Homo sapiens: one gene and its partner. The protein of the gene in region 1 purifies or fractionates together with the protein of each later gene. This does not show direct contact. Each region holds a gene or a part of one and is shown in the gene's direction. Other genes may lie near its edges. The genes, in order: SCIN and MEX3A.

Region 1 (4,024 bases):
GAAGTGATTCTCCACCTGCCTGTCTGCTGCAATCTGGTGTCCCTCTTCTTTATCTGCGTGGGGGTTAGAATTTTTTAGAAACTGCACATCAGACTTTCCATAGAGCTGCCCATTCACTTCCTCCACAGCCTTTAATTCAAGATAGTAAACCACAGTAGGTTTAGCTAAGAGCACTTAAGAGTTATTATTCCTTAGAGCAAGTTGTGCAGACTTGGCCTGAAACCCAGATGATATTTGTCTTCATCGAAATCAATTTAGACCCTGGCTAGTTACTCCTTTCCTTTCCGAATCTCTCAGCCTCATCTACTCTCCTCATTTTTATGTCCCTGCACAAGGAACACAATGAGATCATTTCTTCCAGGTCACAGAGCTCTTGTGAACCTTATGTAGAAAGACAAACTTATTTTACTGCAGGGGTAACATATTAAAGAACTTGATTCTTCTCTCAAATATTCAAATTCAGCGGCAATTACTTTAGTTGTGAGAAAAAGCAATTTTGGATTATATGAGCTTGATAGCTAAACCAGGATAATTTTCCATTTCCTTACTTTTGTCTCCACTGCCAGATTCATATTTTCCCTTAATTTCTTATTTTCCTGTTTACTATTATTATTATTTTAAATTTCAGATTCAAGTTCTTCCAGAAGGAGGTGAAACACCAATCTTCAAACAGTTTTTTAAGGACTGGAGAGATAAAGATCAGAGTGATGGCTTCGGGAAAGTTTATGTCACAGAGAAAGTGGCTCAAATAAAACAAATTCCCTTTGATGCCTCAAAATTACACAGTTCTCCGCAGATGGCAGCCCAGCACAATATGGTGGATGATGGTTCTGGCAAAGTGGAGGTATTTACCTGTTTTTGTTTTTATCAAGCCCATTAATGCCAGTGTATGTAGGGGGAGGGTGGGGGAGATCACTTGAGGACAGGAGTTCGAGATCAGCCTGGCCAACATGGTGAAACCCCACCTCTACTCAAAATACAAAAATTAGCCAGGTGTGATGGAGCTCGCCCATAGTCCTAGCTACTTGGTAGGCTGAGGCATGAGAATCGCGTGAGCCTGGGAGGTGGAGGCTGCAGTGAGCCAAGATCATAACACTGCACTCCAGCCTGGGTGACAGAGTGAGAAATGTGTGTATACACACACACACACACACACACATAAATGTGTATATATACACATATATCTGTGTGTATATATACATATATATTTATAAATGTATATCTAAATATATTTATACATATTTAATGGCTCTCCACAGCCTTCCTGAGAAGATCCATCTTCAGCTGGACCCTTGACCCTTTCCGTCATCTTGGCTTCACCCTTCCACTGCCTTGAGGACTGACTTCCCCTCTGCCATCTAGCTAATGTTCCTACGCCTCCTTGGCAACTCAGTTAAATCACAAGCCATACCTTTTCTGAGAAGGCTTCCCTCAGCGCTGAAGTGGCCTTTCTCTGTGCTCAACCTCTAGCGATACTTCTCACATAATTTATCATATACCTACCACAGAGTTGTTCATTTACTGCCAGATTTCTCCTAGAGCTCTCATCGATTCCTTGAGGACAGGAATGAAATATTTCATCTCTATATTCCTAGGGCTTACTACAATTCTTGGACCAAAGTATATGGTCAAGAAATTAGGGAAATAATTTTTCCTCTTTTCAAAGACGTGAAGCGTGAATCTAAGCGGCATGGGTGTTGGAGAGTGGGAAGTGCCAAGGGAGAAGGTCACAAATGTCCCTCATGGCTGTTGTCAGAGGGGTATTGACTTCTGGGTCTGCATCTGTCTCCTGCTCAGACATTCCTGCCAGAGCTCAGCCCTCCTGGCAAACTTGGTCCCCAGCACCAGCTGTGTCCTGGCTGCAGCCTTCTCCTGTGCCATCCTAGGGCTGCTGAAATCTGGGGGCTCTCTCTCGGATCTTGTGCTCTCTCTAGGATCTAAGGCTTCTGCTCACTAGGATAGTATGGGGTGGCCTCTCTCTAGAAGCACTGCACTGTTCCTGTCCACTTGCTTATCTTCAGATTTCAAAGCAAAGAGTCTGCCCTTCCCAACTGAGAACTTAGGCAAGTGTGCGCGCGTGTGTGTGTGTGTGTGTGTGTGTGTGTGTGTGTTTGCTTGCATGTACACACACAGTGCCTGGCAGCCTCTCCTTCGTTTGTTACTCTCCTGTTTCATCTACAATTCTCATCTCTCCAAGTTGGAGGGTGTTTAATCTGTGCTGAAGATGAGGAGGCAGAATGAAAGTGGTTCTGCCTGCTTTTCTCCCAGCATCACATTTCGGTCTTATTCCTGGATGGCACCTTTTAAAAACAGAAGTCATATTATTGGCATGGTCTTAGTCTGTTCAGGCTACTATAACAAAAGTACCATAGATTGGGGGTTTAAGCAGAAACATGTATTTCTCACCAGTCTGGAGGCTGGGGAGTCTAAGCTCAAGGTTTTGATGGGCTCAGTGTTTGGTGGAGGATCCACTTTCAGGTTCATAGACTTTTTGCTGCATCCTCACATGGTGGAAAAGGAGCTAGAGAGCTTTCTGATTATAAGGGCACTAATTTCACTCATGAAGGCTCCAGCCTCATGACCTAATTACCTCCCAAAGGTCCCACCTCCTAATACCATCACACTGGAGGTTAGGATTTCAACATACATTGTGGAGGGACTCAAACATTCAGTGTGTTGTAGCATTTTTAGTATTTGGTCACAGTCTATCAAGTTTTGCCTGGGAAAATAATAGTCCGCTATCTTAAAGCACAGGGAAAAAAATATATATATATGTTATTTCATAATTGAAGAAAAAAATTAACTATAAAATAGATATATATTTCTGAGCTGAATCTTGCAGTTTTTTATTCCACTGGAGTGTCATGTTATTTCCACTAGTAGATGAAACAATAAGTATTTATTAATCAATGGGCTCGGAACTGAGCTTAATACTGTAGAGGAAGCAAAAGACACATAAAAGTAGTTAAAATGTCAATAAATTGGCAAATCGATAACAATTTCTTTGCTTGATTTGTAAACTAGTTAATAAATAATTTAAAAGTTGTTTAATAATGGATTTGAACCAAAAATTATTTAAAGCTTATGAGAAATATTATTAGATCAAGAAAATTGTAATTTGTTGTATATATTCCATTCCTTCCAGATTTGGCGTGTAGAAAACAATGGTAGGATCCAAGTTGACCAAAACTCATATGGTGAATTCTATGGTGGTGACTGCTACATCATACTCTACACCTATCCCAGAGGACAGATTATCTACACGTGGTGAGTTTATACGGGTAAAGATCTCGAGTTCCACAGGAGCCAGATTTTGCTCCAAAGTATTAAATTCTATGCATTATGGGGTAGAATAATCCTATAATCATCCCAGTGAGATTTGTATAGCATGCATATAGTATTTTCTTTTTACATGATTTTGACTATGTTTTGCAGTTGCCATCCACAGGCAGCAGGAGTCACATAAAGATCATGCTATCTAGTCTAGGCAAAAAGTTTTGATATCCTAAACCAGTGATGTTCTCCTAGTGGATATGTAGTTGAATATCTCATCTTGTATGCAGGTTAACACTGCAACAGCAAGTGTCAGGTACCATGGTTTCTTATGGTTAAAATTCACAGAGGTCCATCCTAATTGGAACTGCAAAGTTGCAATATGGCAAAACCTGTAGGAGATACAATTTGTGATTCCACTGATACCTCAACTTGATGCAATTCTTATTCTTGTTTCCATTAAATTCACAAGAATAATGGAAAAAATATGCAACTGTGTTTTCATATTACATGGTTTTGCATGATGATTTAATTGAAGTCTAAATTTGCCAATGCCCTGCTCAAGGAGGAAATGATCAAATGTCCAACCAAGTAATTTATGTGCATACACCATGCTAGGATATGTCAAGGGATAGGGATTCTGCAACAAATTATATAATGTGAAATTCTCTAACTTTTTATTAAGTGAAATCAGGTAAAAATAGAATATTGCTAAGACGGCTGGAAAAAAGAAAATAATTCTTAAAAAAGA
Region 2 (3,500 bases), on another chromosome or scaffold:
GGCGGGTGGATCACCTGAGGTCAGGAGTTCAAGACCAGCCTGGCCAACGTGGTGAAACCCCATCTCTACTAAAAAATACAAAAAATTAGCTGGGCGTGGTGGCAGGTGCCTGTGATCCCAGCTACTCGGGAGGCTGAGGCAGGAGAATCGCTTGAACCCAGGAGGCAGAGGTTGCAGTGAGCCGAGATTATGCCACTGCACTCCAGCCTGGGTGACAGAGCAAGACTCCATCTCAAAAAAAAACAAACAAAAAAAGTGAGGGAGGGTCCCCCAACCTACTCTCTTCCCCTCACCCCCCAATCTGCCAGCGTTGAAGAAGCAGCCATCTGGAGTGGAGGAAGGAGGAAAAAATGAGCTCACCTCAGGTCTCAGGTTGGAGGGTTGGGGCAGAGGCAGAAAAGTAGGACCACTTGGTTTCGGTTGGAGAGAGAAGGGGAATAGTGAGTTGTGCTCAGAGAAGGGTGTGAGTGGGTCTATATGTGATTGGGGGTGAAAGTCATGGGTGCGGGTGTGTATAGGAATGTGCTGTTTGTGTGCTGGGGAGGATGGGGATGGACAGTGGGATGTATGAAAGGCCGAAACACAGGGACTTGATGTGTGTGTGAAAGAGGTGTATAAAAGTGTACATTAGATTGGCCCCATAAGTATTATTTAGATAAAGGCACACCTCTTAGGTACATGTGTGTGAACTCACACACGTGACGTGTGCTTCCCAAAAGGGTATGAGTCTTGGAAGCTCTGTGTGAAGCTAGGAGCAGGGAAGAGGAAGGTGGGTAAGGAGGAGAGGGACTTGTCCAGACCCCCAGGTCGGCAGCTTTTAGAAACAGAATAGCCCTTACTTTTCTCTCTAGCCTTCTCCCTCTTTGTCTCTCTTTGTCTCATTTTTCTTCTTTCTCTTCCTGCCTTTCCCTAACCTCCCAGCTTTAACTCACTTCTACTTCAAAGCAGGAGTGTGGGTCCAAAATACCTCTCCCTCACCGTACTCAGCCCCAGCCCAGCTCAGCTGTCTTGCCCCCAGGGGACAGGGGGACAAGAGTGACACGGGGTTGGGCACTGTTCCCTCACACAGAAGTTTAACTCCATACTCCTCCTTTCCTCCTTGAACTTATGATTGTCAGACCTTTCCCAGTCCCCTACACTCTACTCGTTGCTGCAAACTCGCTATGAATTTGAGGCCCACTGAGAGAAACTACTGAGTGGAAGGCATGTGGGGCGGTCATAGAGCAGATAGACTTCAGTGGTCCCTGGGTAGTTTGGAGGACACTTTTAATGATCAAGGGTCAGATGAGTAGATTATGAGGTTACTGAGCACATTGGGGTTCTGTGGAAAGATCAGGGTCAGTGACAGATGTGGGGGGTGATTAAGTGATTTGGAAGTTTGTGAGTAGCCAGGAATCAGTAGAGAAATTGAAGGAAGAGCAAATGTTGGGAGAAAGGAGTGTAGTTTGTGAATGGATTTGAGTTACCAGCTTGTATGGGAGGGTCAGTGATTATTTGGGGGTTTTGAGGAGTGAATGAATTTGGAGGGCCCTGAATGGAACTCAGGGAAAGTTAGTACATTTTGAAATCTGTGGCTGAGAGAGACATTAGGCACATCTGAGATCTGATAAATGGTTTCTTCAAGTCAGGGTGGACTGTGTGTGCAGCAGTGGGCATTTCAAAGGGTAGACTGAAGTGTTCCTGGGAGGCTAGGTATTTGGGTAAGGATCAGGAATTTATTGGTCCCAGCACAAACCTTGCTGTGTGCGTTTCTTTGTCTCTCTCCTTCCCCGCCCTATCCCAGGCTGCAAGATTAAGGCCTTGAGGGCCAAGACCAACACCTACATCAAGACACCGGTGAGGGGCGAGGAACCAGTGTTCATGGTGACAGGGCGACGGGAGGACGTGGCCACAGCCCGGCGGGAAATCATCTCAGCAGCGGAGCACTTCTCCATGATCCGTGCCTCCCGCAACAAGTCAGGCGCCGCCTTTGGTGTGGCTCCTGCTCTGCCCGGCCAGGTGACCATCCGTGTGCGGGTGCCCTACCGCGTGGTGGGGCTGGTGGTGGGCCCCAAAGGGGCAACCATCAAGCGCATCCAGCAGCAAACCAACACATACATTATCACACCAAGCCGTGACCGCGACCCCGTGTTCGAGATCACGGGTGCCCCAGGCAACGTGGAGCGTGCGCGCGAGGAGATCGAGACGCACATCGCGGTGCGCACTGGCAAGATCCTCGAGTACAACAATGAAAACGACTTCCTGGCGGGGAGCCCCGACGCAGCAATCGATAGCCGCTACTCCGACGCCTGGCGGGTGCACCAGCCCGGCTGCAAGCCCCTCTCCACCTTCCGGCAGAACAGCCTGGGCTGCATCGGCGAGTGCGGAGTGGACTCTGGCTTTGAGGCCCCACGCCTGGGTGAGCAGGGCGGGGACTTTGGCTACGGCGGGTACCTCTTTCCGGGCTATGGCGTGGGCAAGCAGGATGTGTACTACGGCGTGGCCGAGACTAGCCCCCCGCTGTGGGCGGGCCAGGAGAACGCCACGCCCACCTCCGTGCTCTTCTCCTCTGCCTCCTCCTCCTCCTCCTCTTCCGCCAAGGCCCGCGCTGGGCCCCCGGGCGCACACCGCTCCCCTGCCACTTCCGCGGGACCCGAGCTGGCCGGACTCCCGAGGCGCCCCCCGGGAGAGCCGCTCCAGGGCTTCTCTAAACTTGGTGGGGGCGGCCTGCGGAGCCCCGGCGGCGGGCGGGATTGCATGGTCTGCTTTGAGAGCGAAGTGACTGCCGCCCTTGTGCCCTGCGGACACAACCTGTTCTGCATGGAGTGTGCAGTACGCATCTGCGAGAGGACGGACCCAGAGTGTCCCGTCTGCCACATCACAGCCACGCAAGCCATCCGAATATTCTCCTAAGCCCCGTGCCCCATGCCTCCGGGGCCCACTCCACTGGGCCCACCCTGGACCTGTTTTCCACTAAAGCCTTTTGGAAAGCGGTGATTTGAGGGGCAAGGTGCTTAGAGATACTCGCTCGCTGGGGAAGGGGGGAGGGAGGCAGTGGTGGCTGGAGGGTGCGCCACTTTCAGAGCCTCTGGTCACCCTGTCCTGGAAAGATTGGGAGGGGGCCAGACTGAAAATTTTACTAGAGTTACAACTCTGATACCTCAACACACCCTTAAATCTGGAAGCAGCTAAGAGAAACTTTTGTTTTGCCAGAGGTGGCCACTAAGGCATTCTGACGCCCTCTGCCCACCTCCCCCGCTGTGTGTCACTCCACCCCTTCTTCCGAGGAGGGGGTGGGTAAAAGGGAGAGGGAGAATTACCACCTGTATCTAGAGGTGCTCTTTGCAATCCCTAAGCCCTCTGGTCCTGACCTCCGACCTCCTAACATGACCCTTTACCTCCCACCCCACCCCCATATCCTGTTTGGGAAACTGTCACCAGTTTCCAGCAGTGTAAGGGAGTTGGAGTCCTATCAGAAGTTGCATAGATCTTCTAGGGGTTGGGGAGAGAAGCATGTCAAT

The links.
Region 2: the proteins of SCIN (region 1) and MEX3A purify together in Homo sapiens (affinity purification with western blotting, with the first as the bait; one study listed by BioGRID). This does not show direct contact.

Annotation. Positions count from the first base shown.
Region 1 is NC_000007.14:12,625,956-12,629,979, forward strand, and holds part of SCIN (scinderin), read left to right. Parts: intron 1-628; coding exon 629-844; intron 845-3,145; coding exon 3,146-3,267; intron 3,268-4,024. UniProt on the Homo sapiens protein: Ca(2+)-dependent actin filament-severing protein that has a regulatory function in exocytosis by affecting the organization of the microfilament network underneath the plasma membrane.
Region 2 is NC_000001.11:156,075,966-156,079,465, reverse strand, and holds part of MEX3A (RNA-binding protein MEX3A), read left to right. Parts: intron 1-1,783; coding exon 1,784-2,892; 3' UTR 2,893-3,500. UniProt on the Homo sapiens protein: RNA binding protein, may be involved in post-transcriptional regulatory mechanisms.